2 separate regions of the Homo sapiens genome follow, and region 1 is linked to region 2. The links come from fine-mapping of genetic effects on gene expression. A gene starts in region 2. The other region holds a variant in brackets. All regions are shown on one strand. Distances are between the middles of the regions.

Evidence for each region. PIP is the estimated chance that this variant, and not a neighbour inherited with it, causes the effect.
Region 1: its variant is fine-mapped to the expression of CDIPT in whole blood (GTEx, PIP 0.95).

Annotation. Positions count from the first base shown.
Region 1 is chr16:29,053,360-29,063,112 of GRCh38, forward strand. It overlaps the pseudogene PLA2G10CP. Among named protein-coding and RNA genes, the nearest start is that of LAT, 73 kb to the left of the region's middle. RefSeq lists a silencer at 8,375-8,575. The variant G/A (reference allele first, on the strand shown) is at 5,144.
Region 2 is chr16:29,859,027-29,868,349 of GRCh38, forward strand. CDIPT (CDP-diacylglycerol--inositol 3-phosphatidyltransferase) reads right to left here and starts at 4,200. Exons shown (of 6, transcript NM_006319.5): 1 at 3,789-4,200; 2 at 3,560-3,694; 3 at 2,080-2,233; 4 at 1,555-1,636; 5 at 416-497; 6 at 1-308. The coding sequence starts at 3,831. The coding sequence ends at 163. It also overlaps the pseudogene CDIPTOSP. RefSeq lists enhancers at 1,627-2,165, 4,321-4,858 and silencers at 3,893-4,202, 4,213-4,272.

The sequences.
Region 1 (9,753 bases), 810 kb before region 2:
AGTTTGAGACCAGCCCGGCCAACTTGGTGAAACCCCACCTCTACTGAAAAACATACAAAAATTAGCTGGGCGTGATGGTGCATGCCTGTAGTCCCAGCCACTTGGGAGGCTGAGGCATGAGAATCGCTTGAACCCAGGAGGCAGAGGTTGTAGTGAGCCAAGATCACGTCAGCACACTCTAGCCTGGGTGACAGAGCGAGACTCTGACTCAAAAAATAAATAAAATAAATATCACTTACATTAGATATACCCAAGGGGTGTTCTATAGAGAGTTGGAAGCAGTGGTTATTGCAACGGGCACGGAAGTCATCTGGCTATGCCAGGGTGCCCAGGGGATACTCGGGGTGGGTGGCATGGTGCTGCTGGGGACTCACCGCACAGGACGCTCTGATTGACGCACTGCCAGGAGTAGCGCTCTGTCTTGGGGCTGCAGCCGGCCTCCTCAGCTCGAGTGTAACAACAGTCGTGGCCATGGCAGCACCTGCGGATGTCACATGGGCAGGACAGCAGGTGGGTGAAGCTCTCTCCTGGCCCTCCTCTCTTGCCAGGACCATGGGTGACTGAAGACCCCCAGGGAGGCACAGCATCCTCTTATCTAAGTTTTTTTTTTTTTTTTTTTTTTTTTTTTTTTTTTTTTAAGAGACAGGGTCTTTCTCTGTCGCCCAGGCTGGACTGCAGAGGCACAATCATAGCTCACGGCAGCCTTGAACTCCTGGGCTCAAGCGATCCTCCTACTTCAGTGTCCCAAGTAGCTGAGACTACAGGCACACGCCAGCATGCCCGGCTGGTTTTTTAATTTGTATTTCCTTTGAGACAGCGTATCTCTCTGTTGCTCAGGCTGGGGTGCAATGGCTCCATCAGCTCACTTTAGCCTTGAACTCCCGGGCTCAAGTGATACTGCCACCTCAACCTCCCAAGTATGCTACTACAGGAACACAAACTCCTTTTTTAAATTTTTTGTGGATATGGGGTCTATGTTGCCTAGGCTGGTCTCGAACTCCCAGGCTCAAGCAGTCCTCCTACCTCAGCCTCCCCAAATGCTGGGATTACAGGTGGGAGCTACTGTACGCCTGGCCTTATCTAAGCTGTTTCCCTGAAAATCCCCGACTTCGATAATGATTCCATTGGCCCCACCATGCCCTGTCCTGCCTTCCTGGCTGTGCCCAAGCTTGGTCCCTGCCTGCCTGCCTCACTCTCTGGGTCTCGAGCTCCTGTGACACATGACTCCTCTCTCTTCCTGGAGTGATCCAAGCCCTGCCACTTCCTGACCTTGCCCACACTGTACCCTCTGCCTGGGGCAACTTCATGTCTGCCCATTGTCCCTTAGGCCTCAGCCCAGGCACAAGCCCCTGCCTCCGGAGGTCATCCAGGCCTCACCAGGTTACACCCTCTCGTAAAATTGGATTCCCTCCCTTCAGGGCAGGTTTATAATGAAATCCTCCTCAGAGGCCAGGTGCGGTGACACCCATCTGTAATCCCAGCACTTTGGGAGGCTGAGGTGGGAGGATCACTTGAGGCCAGGGGGTCGAGACCAGCCTGAGCAACATAAGAGAGACTCTTGTCTCTATAACAAATTTAAAAATTAGCTCACCAGGCCAGGCTCAGTGGCTCATGCCTGTAATCCCAACACTTTGAGAGGCCGAGGCAGGTGGATCACGAGGTCAGGAGTTCGAGAGCAGCCTGACCAACATGGTGAAACCCTGTCTCTACTAAAAATACAAAATTAGCCAGGCATGGTGGCACGCACCTGTAATCCCAGCTACTCGGGAGGCTGAGGTAGGAGAGTTGCTTGAACCCAGGAGGTGGAGGTTGCGGTGAGCCAAGATCATGCCACTGCAGTCCAGCCTGAGCAACAGAGCAAGACTCTGTCTCAAGACAATAAAAACACACAAAAAATTAACTCGCCATGATGGCACATGCCTATAGTCCTAGCTACTTGGGAGGCTGAGGTGGGAGGATTCCCTCCAGCCCAGGAGTTTGAGGCTGCAGTGAGCCACTATGATTGTGCCACTGCACTCTAACCTGGGCAAAAGCGAGACCCCAGGCTAGAGTGCATGATTTTGGGTCACTGCAACCTCCACCTCCCAGGTTCAAGTGATTCTCCTGCCTCAGCCTCTTGAGTAGCTGGGACTACAGGCATGTGCCACCACGCCTGGGTAATTTTTGTATTTTTAGTAGAGACAGGGTTTAGTAGAGACCATGGTGAAACCCCGTCTCTATAAAACAAATCTCTACTAACCCCATCTCTACAAAAAACAGCTGGGCGTGGTAGTGCACACCTGTAATTCCAGCTACTTGGGAGGCTGAGGCACGAGAATCATTTGCATCTTGGAGGCAGAGTTTGCAGTGAGCTGACATCGCACCACTGCACTCCAGCCGGGATGACAGAGCAAGACCCTGTCTCAAAAAAAAGAAAAAGGAACAAACAACAGCCACAACAAAAAAACCTCTGTGTCAATCACAGCCTTCAAGCTAGGGGAGAGGCGGCCGAATTCTGCCCTCTGCTAACTAACTATAGCTTTGTGGAAATGGGTGAGTGGCATGCCCCTGTGAGCCTCAGGGCCCCATCTGTAAAATGGGCATAACTGTCATGCCCGTCTTTAAGAACAGCCTTGGGGGTAAATGAGTGGAACTCATGGAAAGATCTCAGCCCACAACCTTCCACAGAACAGGCGCTTCTCACACAGTAAGTAGCAGGAGTGCAGAGGCTGCAGGCATGAATCCAGTCAGACTGCAGACTGCCTGGGTTCAAGTCCCAGCTCCCACGTCTTGGTAACTAAGTGGCCTCAGACAAGTTACTTAGTATTTCTTCTTCTTCTTTTTTTTTTTTTTTTCAGACGGAGTTTTGCTCTGTCACCCAGGCTGGAGTGCAGTGGTGTGATCTCGGCTCACTGCAACCTCCGCCTCCCGGGTTCAAGCAATTCTCCTGCCTCAGCTTCCTGAGTAGCTGGAATTACAGGAACCTGCCACCACATCCAGCTAATTTTTGTATTTTTAGTAGAGACAGGGTTTCACCATGTTGGCCAGGATGGTCTCGAACTCCTGACCTCGTGATCTGCCTGCCTCAGCCTCCCAAAGTACTGGGATTACAGGCGTGAGCCACCGCACCTGGACACGTTACTGAATATTTCTGTGCCTAGGTTTCTTCATCTGTGAAATGGGATTGTTGTGAGAACACAAAGGGATTCCCAGGGCAGTTCCTAGTGCATAGTCTGGCTGCCTTTGTTTGTTTGTGTGTGTGTGTGTGTGTGTGTGTGTGTGTGTGTGTGTGTTTGTGTTTGTGTTTAATATAGAGACAGGGTCTCACTCTGTTGCCTAGGCTCGTTTCAAACTCCTGGGCTCCAGTGATCCTCCTGCCTCGACCCAAAGTGGTGGGATTACAGGCATGAGTCAACACACCTGGCCACTTTATATTATTATTATTTTTTTCTTTTGAGACAGGGTTTGGCACTGTTGTCCAGGTTGGAATACAGCGGTGCAATCTCAACTCACTGCAAACTCCACCTCCCGGGTTCAAGCAATTCTCCTGCCTCAGTCTCCCGAGTAGCTGAGATTACAGACGCCTGCCACCACACACAGCTAATTTTTGCATTTTTAGTAGAGATGGGGTTTCACCATATTGGCCAGGCTGGTCTTGAACTCCTGACCTCAAGTGATCTGCCCACCTCGGCCTCCCAAAGTGCTGGGATTACAGGAGTTAGCCACCGCTCCTGGCCAATTTTTTAAGGCAACGTTTTCAGCCCATGGCCAGGGTAAGGGGCAGCTGGTACCAAGATCTGGCTTCACTGGCCATGTTATCCAAGAGGCCTCTGCCTGCCTGCAAAGTAGTACTGCACACTGGGATCTCCCTGGACCAAATCCCAGCTTCAGTTTTGGGTACTTCCTCATAAGCCTTGACTACCCCAGAGTGTGAGGGATTTTGTAGCCTGGTCCCAGGCATGCACTCACCAGTCAATGGCATCGCAGGGCTGGCCATGGCCTCCCAAGCCACAAAAGGAACCATATTTCGTATAGGCGATGGGAGTCTAGGGACCAACACAACCCACAATTCCTGCCAGTTCCAGGATCCCACGCCGGTGCACACATAATATCCTGGAGGCTGGGGGGTAAACAAAGGTGACAGGCTGCAGGTCAGGGCTTCCCAGACCCCTGGGAAGGGCATGAGCCTGAGAAGAGCCTAGGTGTTACAGCCTGGCTGTCTGGGTTTGAATCCTACTTCCTAGCTGTGTGACCTTGGACGAATTCCTAACCTCTCTGGGCCTTGGTTTCCTCATCTGTGAAATGGGGGATAAGCTGACTTCAACTCATATGAATGAAATGAGATAATGAGTATAAAGCCCCTGGTGCATGAAAAGGCTATTATAATCCGGCTGGGCTCAGTGGCTCACACCTGTAATCCCAAGACTTTGGGAGGCCCAGGTGGGCAGATCACCTGAGGTCAGCAGTTCAAGATCAGCCTGGCCAACATGGTGAAACCCCATCTGTAGTAAAAATACAAAAATTAGCTGAGCCTAGTGGTGCACACCGGTAATCCCAGCTACTAGGGAGGCTGAGGAAGGAGAGTCACTTGAACCTGAGAGGTGAAGATTGCAGTGAGCCAAGATTTTGCCACTGCATTCCAACCTGGACGACAGAGCAAGAGTCTCAAAAAAAGAAAAAGAAAAAAAGGATAACTATTATAATCAAGGTCCTCAAGGTAGCCAAGAAGGGAAAAAAGAGTCGTGCATGAAACGTTTGTCCAGTTCCCTGTGTTGGGCACTGGGCATCACGGATGTGCCTACAGGTGTCTGTCACCAAGGTGGGCTCCTCTGTGGCAGCTCCCGGGCCCTGGCACTGCCCTGTGCTCATGACTTCCCCTCCAGACTCAGGGCCCTTGGTATCTCCTCTTATTTTCACTGCCAGACAGGAAGGCCCCTTGGCCTGAGTCCAGCCATTTTTCTAGATCCTGGCACAGCTTGGACATGTAATGGTGCCCAACGCATGTGACTGGAACCCCTGCATTGGACATGAAGGAAACGAGGCCAGCTGGGAAAGGTAACCCCACATTCCCACAGCCAGCAGGAACCCAAGCAGAGGCTTCAACCCAGGCTTCTGACTTGCAAACCAGTGCTCCTTCCTCCTTACACAGTAACAACAGGGGAAG[G/A]TGGCCTTCTGGGTTGCCAGAGCCGAGTGGTACCAGCAATAGAGTGGAAACTCACACACAGGCTTGCCTGCTTCCTGGGTTAGGGTTAGGGTTTATATGGCTCCGGGAGGTTGATGCATTGTGTTTGATCATCCCCCCCTTTTTTTTTTTTTGAGACAGAGTCTCATTCCTGTTGCCCAGGCTGCAGCACAGTGGTGTAATCTTGCTCACAGCAACTTCTGCCTCCCAGGTTCAAGCAATTGTCCCGCCTCAGCCTCCCGAGTAGCTGGGATCACAGGTGTGCGCCACCACACCCAGCTGATTTTTGTATTTTTAGTAGAAACGGGGTTTCACCATCTAGGCCAGGCTGGTCTTGAACTCCTGACCTCATATGATCCACCTGGTTTGGCCTCCCAAAGTGCTGGGATTATAGGCGTGAGCCACTGCGCTCATCCTGATCATCTCGTCTCTCTTTTTTTTTTTAGAGACAGGGTCTCACTCTGTCACCCACACTGGAGTGCAGTGGCACAATCATAGCTCACTGCAGCCTCCAAATCCTGGGCTCAAGCGATCCTCCTGCCTCAGCCTCCAGACATATGGGCATGCACCACCATGCCCAGCTAATTTTTAAATTTTTAGTAGATCTGGGGTCTCACTATGTTGCCCAGGCTGTTCACAAACTCCTGGCCTCAAGTGATTCTCCTGCCTTGGCCTCCGAAGGCGCTGGGATTCCAGGCATGAGCCACCATGCCCAGTCTCATTTCTGTTTTATCTAGAACATGTTTTCATCACACTGACTTTTTTGAGAAGTCCAGGCCAGATTTAAATTCCATTTTGTCTTTTTATCGGTGGAAAAGTAGCATATTTATGTTGCAGGACAAAGATGAATCAAATAGGAAGAAAATGTAAAACACATTTGGGGCCAGGCACAGTGGCTCATGCCTGTAATCCCAGCACTTTGGGAGGCCAAGGTGGGCAGATCACCTGAAGTCAGGAGTTCCAGACCAGCCTGACCAACATGGAGAAACCATGTTTTTTTTTTTTTTTTTTTTTTTTTTTATTGATCATTCTTGGGTGTTTCTCGCAGAGGTGGATTTGGCAGGGTCATAGGACAATAGCGGAGGGAAGGTCAGCAGATAAACAAGTGAACAAAGGTCTCTGGTTTTCCTAGGCAGAGGACCCTGCGGCCTTCTGCAGTGTTTGTGTCCCTGGGTACTTGAGATTAGGGAGTGGTGATGACTCTTAACGAGCATGCTGCCTTCAAGCATCTGTTTAACAAAGCACATCTTGCACCACCCTTAATCCATTTAACCCTGAGTGGACACAGCACATGTTTCAGAGAGCACAGGGTTGGGGTAAGGTCACAGATCAACAGGATCCCAAGGCAGAAGAATTTTTCTTACTACAGAACAAAATGAAAAGTCTCCCATGTCTACTTCCTTCTACACAGACACGGCAACCATCCGATTTCTCAATCTTTTCCCCACCTTTCCCCCCTTTCTATTCCACAAAACCGCCACTGTCATCATGGCCCGTTCTCAATGAGCTGTTGGGCACACCTCCCAGCCGGGGTGGCGGCCGGGCAGAGGGGCTCCTCACTTCCCAGTAGGGGCGGCCGGGCAGAGTCGCCCCTCACCTCCCGGACAGGGCGGCTGGCCGGGTGGGGGGCTGACCCCCCCACCTCCCTCCCGGGTGGGGCGGCTGGTTGGGCGGGGGACTGATCCCCCCACCTCCCTCCCGGGTGGGGCGGCTGGCCGGGCGGGGGGGCTGACTCCCCCACCTCCCTCCCAGACGGGGCGGCTGGCCGGGCGGGGGGGCTGACCCCCACCTCCCTCCCGGACGGGGTGGCTGCCGGGCGGAGACGCTCTTCACTTCCCAGACGGGGTGGCTGCCGGGCGGAGGGGCTCCTCACTTCTCAGACGAGGCGGCTGCCGGGCGGAGGGGCTCCTCACTTCTCAGACGGGGCGGTCGCCAGGCAGAGGGTCTCCTCACTTCTCAGACGCTCCTCACCTCCCAGACGGGGTCGCGGCCGGGAAGAGGCGCTCCTCACTTCCTAGATGGGATGGCGGCCGGGCAGAGAGGCTCCTCACTTTCCAGACTGGGCAGCCAGGCAGAGGGGCTCCTCACATCCCAGATGATGGGCGGCCAGGCAGAGACGCTCCCCACTTCCCCGACGGGGTGGCGGCTGGGCAGAGGCTGCAATCTCGGCACTTTGGGAGGCCAAGGCAGGCGGTTGAGAGGTGGAGGTTGTAGCGAGCCGAGATCATGCCACTGCACTCCAGCCTGGGCACCATTGAGCACTGAGTGAAGGAGACTCCGTCTGCAATCCCAGCACCTCGGGAGGCCGAGGCTGGCGGATCACTAGCGGTCAGGAGCTGGAGACCAGCCCGGCCAACACGGCGAAACCCCGTCTCCACCAAAAAACACAGATGGCGCGTGCCTGCAATCCCAGGCACTTGGCAGGCTGAGGCAGGAGAATGAGGCAGGGAGGTTGCAGTGAGCCGAGATGGTGGCAGTACAGTCCAGCCTCGGCTCGGCATCAGAGGGAGACTGTGGAAAGTGGGAGAGGAAGGGGGAGGGGGAGGGAGAGGACAAAAAATTAAAATTTAGCCGGACATGGTTGTGTGTGCCAGTAGTCCAAGCTGCTGGGGAGACTGAGGCAGGAGGATCACTTGAGCCCAGGAACTTAAGGTCTATTTAAGTAAAGGGTACAGTGAGCTATGATTATACCACTGCACTCCAGCCTGGGGAATAGAGCAAGACCCTGTCTCTAAAAAAAGGTAACAAAATAACATGAATGGATTCCATTTTAAGAGAATGAAGCATCATTGTGTAAGACTATGAAATTGGAAGCAAAGAGCATGAAGCCCAAAAAAAAAAAAAAACCATCTGAAGTCAGGGTGCCTGGGGTCAGAGGTGGGGGGAGGATTGAAGAGGTGCAGATGTAAAAAACTGAAGCTACTGTGACCAGTGGATTCGGGAGTTGAAGGAGTCAAGAATGACACATTCTCCTGACTGGAGGATAAACAAATATGACTGTTTTCAAGAAATAGCTGGAATATTCTTTGTGTTCAGAAGTACAAGAACAGCACATATGGAGGGCGGACTGATACTGAAGTTGAAGAGAAGCCTTCTGACGTGCACTAACTAGATTCTAGACTCAGCTTCTGTCACAAGGAGCCCCAAACAGTGACTCAGCAAAATAGCTTATTTCTCATGTGACAGTTCAGAGGTGATTGGTCCAGGGTTAGGGTTAGACAACAACCGTTATGCAAAATCATCTAGGGACCCAGGGCTGCGCTGTCATGTTGCTCTTGCATCCCCAAGGTTGTCATCTGTGTGGTTAAAGCGGCTCACCAGCCCCAAGTCCTCGTTCAAGCCCATGCAAAAGGAAGCGGAAATACAGGGCCTGGAAATTACACTGATCCCATTGGCCAGAACTTAGTCTCACCTTCTTACCACCCTATATGCGAGACTAAAATGCCTCTAGCTGGATAGTTACATGTTCATTTAAACTTGGGTCATTTTGTTTCTAAATGAAGGGAAGGGGCACAAGTATTAGTCTGTCACAGAAGAGAAAGAACAGAGAGAAAGGTTTTGAAGGGAATGACTTATAAATAGTTACCCGAAGTCTGGTCGTGGCTGACATCAGAGCCAGCATGTTGACCACTTCCATACTGCGTGCTTTAGCTGCCTTATCTCACTTAATCTCAGAATAACCCTATTGTCATTCCCAACTTGTAGATGGGAAAACAGACCCAAAGAGAAGTGATTTACCTTCCACACAATGGGGAAGTAAGGGGGCTAGGTGCACGTCAAGGCAGCCTGTGCCTGGCTCTTATACCTGGTGCTGCTTACATTTCCAGAGGGGGCAGCCTAGAGGAGAGGCCTAGGGACTGGACTCAACGTGCGAGTGCTTGGTGGAAGGGAAGCCAGAGGATCGAGTGGCCAGAGGTTAAGAACCAGGGAGGAGCAGTGATGAAAAGGCTGGAGAGCTTATGCATTTCAGGGCTGGGCTGCCAAGTACCTCACTTGGCCAGTTCAGCATTCTTAGGCAGGAGGCACAGCCATTGTGTTGTCCAATGCCAGGGTATATACCTTTTTCAGTTTCCAATCTACCAATGGTGACCTTTGAACAGCATTGTCAAACCCTTTTCTGCCCAGGGCTAGATAGTATATATTTTAAGCTTTGTGGGCCACACGTGGATTGTCACTCCTTTTCTTAACTTTTTTTTTTTTTTTTTGAGACAGGGTCTCCGCTCTGTCGCCCAGGCTGTTAACTACCGTTAACATTTTAATGCCTCTCTTTCTGGTGTGTGTATATTTATTACTAGACTGGAATCATCCTATATCTATGTCATCTGTTGCTGTTTCCTGTCCCTTTACATAAAGTGAGCTGCTTTCTGAAATTTTATTTATTTTATAATTTATTTATTTTATAGACAGAGTCTTGCCCTGTCACCCAGGTTGGAGTTCAGTGGTGCAATCTCAGCTCACTGCAATCTCAGCCTCCCGAGTAGCTGGGACTACAGACACTCGCCACCACACCCGGCTAATTTTCATATTTTTAGTACAGATGGGTTTTCACCATGTTGGCCAGACTGGTCTTGAACTCCTGGCCTCAAGTGATC
Region 2 (9,323 bases):
AGAGAACGTGACGTCACCAAAGAGAGGCTGACCCCCATCCCAGCAGGTAGAACAACACATGAGGAAGGCGTGAGACTGGGACCTCCTAGCAGGGGGTGGGGAGCTGTGTGGCACAGCAAGACTCCCAGGGCAGGTGGGCAGCCAGGACCCGGGGCTCCAGCGTCACTTCTTCTTGGCGCGGTCTGCTGCGTCCAGGGCAGCCATGTTGCGGGCGGCCGTGATCAGGTGGATGACGCTGATGAGCGACTTCAGCAAGGCGATGGGGGCAGTGACCCAGAGGCCCATCCGGAACAGTCCCACAGAGCCAACTGCAGGAAGGCAGCAGGGGAGTTTGGGGCCCGAAGGAGGGGGCCTCCATCTCCCTGGGCAGGCCAGATCCCCCTCCCATCCTCCTGCCCAGCCCCTCATCTCCTACCTAAAGGTCCCTCAGAGAAATGGAACAGGTAGAGGAGGCAGTAGAAGAGCTCATTCCCAGCACACAAGGTGAACAGAGCAGGCTGCACACACAGCAAACAGGCCACGTTAGCAAGAGGCAGGCGTGTGCCACCCCCTGCCCCCCCAGCACTAATGAAGGCACAATCTCGGCATATTACTTCTCTTATTTTTTTTTCTTTTTTACAGACAGGGTCTCGCTCTCTCATCCAGGTTGGAATGCAGTAGTATGATCATAGCACTGCAGCCTCAAAACTCCTGGTCTCAGCCAGGCGTGTGGCTCATGCCTGGAGTCCCAGCACTTTGGGAGGCTGAGACAGGCGGATCACCTGAGGTCAGGAGTTTGGGACCAGCCTGGCCAACGTGGCGAAACCCCTCTCTACTAACAATACAAAAATTAGCCGAGTGTGGTGGCACGTGCCGGTAGTCCCAGCCACTCAGGAGGCTGAGGCACAAGAATCGCTTGAACCCAGCAGGCAGAGGTTGCAGTGAGCCGATAACCCGCCACTGAACTCCAGCCTGGGTGACAGAGCAGGACTCTGTCTCAAAAAAATAAATAAATAAATAAATAAACCCTTGGTCTCACGCAATCCTTCCACCTTAGCCTCCTAAGTAGAGACTACAGGCGTGTACCACTGTGCCTGGCTAAGCTAATTCAAGATTTTGTGTGTGTGTGGAAACAGAGTCTCACTTTGTTGCCCAGGCTGGTCTCAAACTCCTGGCCTCAAGCAATCCTCCCACCTCAGCCTCCCAAAGCGCTGGGATTACAGGCATGAGCCACCATGCCCAGCCATTATCTTTTTAAAAATCCTTCCAGAGGCTGCCTGTGTTCCTGGAATCAAGTCCACACTCCAGCCCTGCAGACCTCTCTGGCTTATCTCCCTTCCCGCTTTCAGTCCCTTCTCTTTGCAGGCCTCATTCCCACTTGTTCCCTGGAGTAATTCACACAGGCCTTCCCCACCAATCCTCCTCCTCCACGCCTCAGCTTACGGGCCCTCCTCCTGGAGTGACTGGGCAGGCCCTGCTCTGCGCCCTCGCCTTCTCCTAGGCTAGGACCAGGATTCAGCCCAGGGCTTCCCACAGCCAAGAGCCTGAGGGGTGGGGTGTGCAGGAAATGCTTACCCTCGAGGTGTAGTAGATCCGAAGCACCGGATTCCCGGACAAGTCGATCATCTTGTGACTCTCACTGCCTCGGACCACAGAACTTGGGGAGAAAACAGGGGAACCCACAAGGTTTCATGACCACTACCATGCATCCAATCCTCATGTTAACACCTATTGTACAGATGGAAAACTGGGCACGGCTAAGGACCAGTATCCTGCCGAAAGCCACAGTTACCTATTTGGGGGCAGAGTCAGGATTCAAATGCCACATTTGAAAGCTCCCATGCCCCTTCCTATAAGCTGTCACCTATATGGAATCCTAGAATACCCAGCCAGAAGAGTCCTAAGAATTGCTTAATGCAACTGTAAACATGACTGAAGCTTTAAAGAGAGGCAGGTTTGCCTGGGGTCTTTCTACAAAGCAGAGCTAAAAAGGAGCCCTTCCAGGATGCCTAGTGCCATCCCAGACACCCTTCCGTCTAGGCTCAGCCCACCCCACTGTAATGTCTCCAAGTGGCCCAGGCCCCCAGAATCGCAGCAGACCTGTGGAGGTGCAGCCAGTGACTGGCCACATCCAAACTCATGCTGATTTGGAAGAACAGCGTGGCTCCAGGGTACAGCAGGGCCAGGTTGACCAACAGGCACATGGTGGAGCAGCGGTCCGTCAGCATGTCCAGCATGGCCCCAAACCGGGTTCCTGGAAGATTAGGTGGGCAAGGGCTGTTATGGCACAGTGGATGCAGGACAGGTGCCCATATTTGGTTTATCACTCTGACGCAGGGTGTAAACGAAGACTGGAAGTGTCCGCCTGCCTGGGGAGGAACGCAGGCTAGAAAACAGGCTGTGTGTGAGGTCAGTGGGCAAAGGTCACCATGGCATGAACTGAGAAAGGCATGAGAGTGGAGGGAACAGGGTAGGAGGAGAGGAAAGCTATGTCTGCAACTCATCAACCCCAGAACCAAGACTCCAGGGCTAGATAGAGACTTGATGCCTCAGGGGAAGCCTTACAGTTGGGTCTGGAGAACAGATTAAAAAATTAGTCAACCCTCCAGAAGCCATCACCCTTCCCTCTCCATCCTCCCTCTAAGCATGCCTTCTGGAACCCCAACTGCTTATGCAGGGCACACAGTAGGCCTCCAGTAAACACCTGTTGAATACACTGTTTTTTGTTTTTTGTTTTTTTTTTTCCGAGACAGAGTCTTGCTCTGTCGCCCAGGCTGGAGTGCAATGGCGCAATCTTGGCTCACTGCAACCTCCGCCTCCCGGGTTCAAGCAATTCTCCTGCCTTAGCCTCCCGAGTAGCTGGGATTACAGGCACGCGTCACCAAGCCCGCTAATTTTTGTATTTTTAGTAGAGACAGGGTTTCACCATGTTGGCCAGGCTGGTCTCGAACTCCTGAACTCGTGATCCACCCACCTCGGCCTCCCAAAGTGCTGGGATTACAGGCGTGAGCCACCGCCCCTGGCCTGAATGGACTTGTATTCAGAGAGACCTCCAGCAGCGCCACCGCCATGTCATGTCTTGCTAATCCACACCTCTCACAAGCAGTGAGTTCTCAAGAGCTAGCTTAAATTCCTTTTGCTACAAAATCAGTCCATTCTTGCTGGGCGCGGCACTTTGGGAGCAAGGCAGGAGGATCGCTTGAGGCTAGGAGCTGGGGACCAATCTGGGCGACACTGCAAGACCCAGTCTCTACAAAAATTTAAAAATTAGCCGGGTGTGGTGGCACGCTCCTGTAGTCCCAGCTAGTCAGGAGGCTGAGGTGGGAGGATTACTTGAGCCCAGAAGATGGGGGCTGCAGTGAGCCATGATCGCGCCACTGCACTCCAGCCTAAGTGACAGAGCGAGACCCTGTCTCAAAAACAAAAAAACAAAACACAAAACAAAAAGCCCCAGGCCATCCTGTTCTGCTTTTTCCAGAGATGGGAATGACAGCCCTCTGACTCTGAGGTCCCGAGGAGGCAGGGGAAGGGAGGAGGGGATTGTTGAACCCCAAGGCTGGCTGAGAGGGGTGTCTGTCACCTTGATTAAGAGCGCGAGCAGCGTGTCCATCGAAAGCGTCCAGCAGGCCGCTGAGCAGGTAGAAGGAGGAGGCCGTGAGGGGGCAGCAGGGCATGAAGTAGAAAGAAATGATGGCGAAGACAATCCGGGCATAACCTTGGAACGGGACGCGGGGAGACAGGGCAGGATCAGGGAGCCCGCCAAGGCCCCTCGCCCTCTCGTTCGGCCCGGGGCCGTGGGCAGCACTCACCGATGAGGTTGGGCACGAACAGGAAGATATTTTCGTCTGGCATCGCGGCGCCTCCCTTGCTGCCCCGGGCCTGCTCTGGAGATGCCAGTGCTGTCCCAGCCCCGCAGCGCGGCCTCAGCCTCCGGCCCGGCGCATCGGCCGCACCACCTGCGCCCTGGACCCCGCCGCCCCAACCTGGCCCCAGATGCTGAAGCCCGCAGCCGTCGGGAGCATGGACCGGCCCCGAGGTGCGCGGGACGCAGGGGGCGCGCGCAGTCCGCCCTTCCTACCCGCAACCTCCCTCGCCTCTGCCAGCCCCGCAGGCGCTCCGGGCCTCCAGCTGCGGTCGCCGCTGCTCCAGCTGCGCGTGGCTTCCGGGAACCTCCTCCTCCGCGCCCGTCGTTGCAAAATTGGAGAGAGGAAAAAGTGGCTTAAAAAAATAGTTGCGGCCCCTTTAAGGCCTGTCGGCTTCCTTTCCCTTTTCCTCCCTCCGCCCCTCTCCCTTGGCTCGTACCAAAGCGCAGAGGAGGAGAGGGAGGAAGGAACCATTAACGTCAAGCAAAGTTAGAAACGGAAAAGGAAAGGGTAAAAGAGAAGACCGAATAAAAATCTCTGCTTTCCTTTTGTGGAGGGTATGACTTCCTGGAGGCAAAGATAAGGCGATAAAATTCCTCCTCCTGAGTCTTTGCGTCCCCAAGAGGCCAGGAGATTTGGTGCAGTCCTCACTTTACTCCCCGCCCCCTAAGTCTCCAGCCGCCTTTGCTCTCGCAGGCTCTAGGCGGCTAGAGAGGCTCCAGAGCGCCCTGCAGATGGGTTGCTTTTCGCGTGCCCCTTGTGATGGGAGGATTAGGTCGCAGGCTCCACCCTACGTCATCCTCCCAAGCTTCTCAAGCGTCTGGCGCTTGGGGTCACTGCCCTCAAGGAGGCACCTGGAGGGGTACGGAGGGGAGGCTGGAGGAGCAAACGGGGCGCGCTAGGAAATTCCTCTGTCTTTAGTTCTAGAACCCCTGATCTCCTAGCAACGAGGCTGCGGAACCTCTGCAGACTCCAAGGGTTTTATAGCGTCCGGTAGCGACACGGAGCCGGCTCCCCCTTTTCCAGCCTTCCTCCCCATCTCCCATTCTCCATCCCCCACGACCTATACCAGAGGTCCTTAGGCCTCCACGTCTCTCCTTTTGCCGAGTAGCCCAAGGTTTCCACCCATCTGCCAGGTCTGGGGCGTCAAGTCGGCTGCCTCGGCTTGGGAAGGTGCTTGGGAGGGAAGAAGGAAGGAGAGGCCCACCAGGCGAAGGGGTGAGGGGTAGGGGGTTGCGGGAGTTCCCTCTCACTCCCGAAGATATAAAGCAACCTTTATTATTATTATTATTTTTTCTTGTGAGAGGGAATGAGGCAGCGGGATGTTTCCTCTAAAGGCCTTGTTTAAACCTGGGCCCGGGGAATGGTGGTGGACTGGGTTCTGGGGGAAAGCGGGCTGGTTTCTCAGGTCAACTCAGGCTTCGACTGTTCCCAGGGGGATGGCGTCCACTCCGATGGGGAATGAGGGGGAGAAGAAGAGCAGCTGGCCATCTCAAGCTGCACCCTCCTTGAGAGGAGGTCCGGTGAGCACTGCAGGGAACCCTAGAGGTGGGAATGTAATGAAGTGAAAGCCTCCCAGGCAGAGGCACCCCGTGCCAGGTCTGAGCCACGGGCCCTGAGACTCTAGCCTCAACCCTGAGTCCTGAAGCCCCGACTCATAGCTCTCAGCACTAGGCCCTGACTCTAAACCCCCACCAAACCCCCCTCCCCCAGGTCCAGAGCTTTCTAGCTAAATCTCAAGGCCCAGTCCTTCAGGAGCAAGCTCCTTGGACCCACAGGCCCCAGCCTGGGAACTCCCACAGCCAGCACTCCCATGTGGGAGCTCCCAGGCTGAACCCCTCCGGCTTTTCCTTTCCCAGGCTTCGTTATCTCGTTCTGAGGAATACCTGTCCCAGATCAGTGCAGAACTCATGGAGGAGGCTTTGTGCACTGCTTGCTGCCACTTGAACCCTGTGCCCATCAAAAAAAAGCAGTCACAAGACCAAGCGACTCAGATATCCAAACGCGGTAACCCCCTGCCTCAGGACCACCGTGTCTAGAGAACCGCTGCCCCCACTATGCCTGGTTACAGTCCCTGACCCCTCCCACCCCTAGCTGAACTCTCCAGGAGTCTGTGCCCATCTCATCCATCTCACAGCCAGCCCTAGGACCTGTGAAATGCCCCTCTCACCCGCTAACCCAGTACCCACTCCTCACTGCTGGCCGAGAATCCCCTTAGCCCCGTCTGCCCTGGCCGCATCTCTTCTGGCCACGGGGATAGTCCTTTCTCTGACTAGGTCCTCTACTTCCAGCATTCTTCACCAAGACCTGAGGCACAGACACCTGGTGAGTGAGGCTTCAAGGGAGATGCTCTTTGTCCTGGGAGAGAGGTGAGGAACCTGGAGGGGAGAGAGTGAGGGTTTCACAATATCCCAGCAGGGTGGGGGAATTTTTGAACCGTGCACTTCCATTCTATTCTGCCCTGATCCTCAAATTCTGAATTCTCAGCCCTCTCCCCTCTCTTCCACCATCTCCTGCTCGGACAGAAACCGTACCTGCAGCAAGGCATACCTCCTGCCAACTCCTGGTGAAAAGGTACATGCAGGGTCCATGGCTGCCAAGGCTATTCGATATTAACCAAACCTTTTGAGTTTGCACTATATGTTGGTCCCTGTCTTAGGAGCTTGGGACACTGAAATGAATGGTACAGTCTCAGCCCTTGAAGAGTTCACAGTTCAGTGTGGGGACAGACAAGGAAATGGCCAATTATAATACAGTCTGGATAAGTTTCCATAATAGAAATGGACACAGTGGGATAGTACTCTTATCCCAGCTTCAATTGGACAGGAAGGACAGGAGCCATGGAGCTTCTTCTTTTTTTTTTTGAGACGGAGTCTTGCTCTGTTGCCCAGGCTGGAGTGCAGTGGTGTGATCTCAGCTCACTGCAAGCTCCACCTCCTGGGTTCACGCCATTCTCCTGCCTCAGCCTCCCAAGTAGCTGGGACTACAGGCACCCGCCACCACACCCGACTAATTTTTTTGTATTTTTAGTAGAGACGGGGTTTCACCGTGTTAGCCAGGATGGTCTTGATCTCCTGACCTCATGATCCGCCCTCCTTGGCCTCCCATAGTGTTGGGATTACAGGCTTTGGAGCTTCTTGAAGGAGGTAGCACCTAAAGAAATAATTTTCCACCAGGTGCAGTGGCTCACACCTGTAATCCCAGCATTTTTGGGAGGCTGAGGTGGGCTGATCACTTCAGGGCAGGAGTTTGAGACCAGCCTGGTCAACATGGTGACAGAGGTTGCAGTGAGCTGAGATCATACCACTGCACTCCAGCCTGGGCGACAGTGAGACCATCTCAAAAAAAAAAAGAAATAATTTTCCAGGTTAAAAAAAAAAGAGGTTAGTAGGAGTCTTTCAAGCAGTTGGGGTTGCATGAACAAAGGCAAAGAGCAGTCTTCGCAGAGCCAGTGTGAGCATCTGTGTGTATTTAGGGCAGGGAGAAGCAGTTTAGCAGCTGGAGTCTACAGGCAAGGTAAGAGGGGACTCAAGAGACTTTATGTGCCTTGTTTAGAGCCTTACACACTTTCCTGGCTGGGTGTGGTCGCTTATGCCTGTAATCCCAGCACTTTGGGAAGCTGAAGCAGGAGGATCGCTTGCGTCCAGGAGTTTGAGACCAGCCTGGGCAACATGGTGATACCCCAGGCATGATGGCATGTGCCTGTGATCCCAGTTACTTGGGAGGTGGGAGGATCGCTTGAGCCCAGGAGTTCAAGAATAGCCTGGGCAACATAGAGAGACCCCATCTCTATAAAAAGTTAAAAAAATTAGCCAGGTGTGGTGGCACGAACCTGTGGTCTCAGCTACTTGAGAGGCGGAGGCCAGAGGATCACTTGAGCCTAGGAGGTTGAGGCTGCAGTGAACCATGTTCATGCCACCGCATTCCAGCCTGAGTGACAGTGCAAGACCCTGTCTCAAAAAGAAAAATTTAAAAAAAAGAAAAGAAAGAAAGAAATAGTAGGAGGAGCTGGGTGCGGTGGCTCATACCTGTAATCCCAGCACTTTGGGAGGCCAAGGCGGGTGGATCATGAGGTCAGGAGTTCAAGATCAGCCTGGCCAACATAGTGAAACCTTGTCTTAACTAAAAATACAAACGTTAGGTCAGGCGCGGTGGCTCACACCTGTAATCTCAGCACTTTGGGAGGCCCAGGCGGGCAGATCACCTGAGGTCAGGAGTTTGAGACCAGCCTGGCCAACATGGGGAAACCCTGTCTCTACTAAAAATACAAAAATTAGCTGGGTTGGTGGTATGCACCTCTAATCCCAGCTACTCAGGAGGCTGAGGCAGGAGAATCGCTTGAACCCAGGAGTTGGAGGTTGCAGTGAGCCGAGATCACACCACTGCACTCCAGCCTGGGCTGCAGAGCAAGACTCTTTCTCAAAAAAAAAAAAAAAAAAAAAAGCCAGGCATTGTGTCACGCACCTGTAATCCCAGCTACTTGAGAAGCTGAGGCAGAGACTTGATTGAACCCGGGAGGTGGAGGTTGCAGTGAGCTGAGATTGCACCACTGCACTCCAGCCTGGGCCACAGATCGAGACTCTGTCTCCAAAAAATTAAATAAATAAAAATTAAGCACTTACTATGTGCCAGCACTGCTCGAGGGGCTGGGGTGTTGCAGTGAACGAAACAGAGTTCCTGCTATCAAGAGGTTTAAAAAATTAGCCGGGTATGGTGGTGCACAGCTGTGGTCCCAGCTACTCGGGAGGCTGAGGTGGGAGGATCATTGGAGCCCAGGTTGAGGCTGCAGGAAGATATGATTACACCACTGCACTCTAGCCTGGCTGACAGAGGGAGACCTGTCTCGAGAAAAATAAAAAAGACATGAGCCTTGGGTCTAAAGAGTGAAAAGGCTCTGTCTCTTTTATGGAGCTCTTCCTAACAGTCAGTTTGGAAGATGAGCCCACCCCTCTTTGATGCTCTTGGCTTCTCATGCCTCCCCCTTTTTGTCCCTAGAACATGCCTCAAAACTACTCTTTTGCCACTCGTTAACCACTTCCGTTTGTGGGGACCTCCTGGTCATGAGCAGCATCATCCCGAAGCCTTCAAAGTGTTCTGGATTCATCACAGGACCCTCCAGCCTCAGCCAGCAAGGATACCACCAGGAATGAAAGTGCTTTAATAAAGAGACAGGGTGTGCATTGCTCATGTGTGGTTTCTCTGGGGTAGAGAAGCAGGACGGGGGGGCTTTTATTTTTTTTTCTAGATGTGGGTGCTGGATGTGGGCATACGATTGGAGTGTTTAGTCTTTAAAAAAATTTTTTTGTGGCCAGGCACGGTGGCTTACGCCTGTAATCCCAGCACAGATCATGAGCTGAGGATATCAAGACCATCCTGGCCAACACGGTGAAACCCTGTCTGTACTAAAAATACAAAAAATTAGCCGGGCATGGTGGCACGTGCCTGTAGTCCGAGCTACTCGGGAGGGAGGCTGTGGCAGGA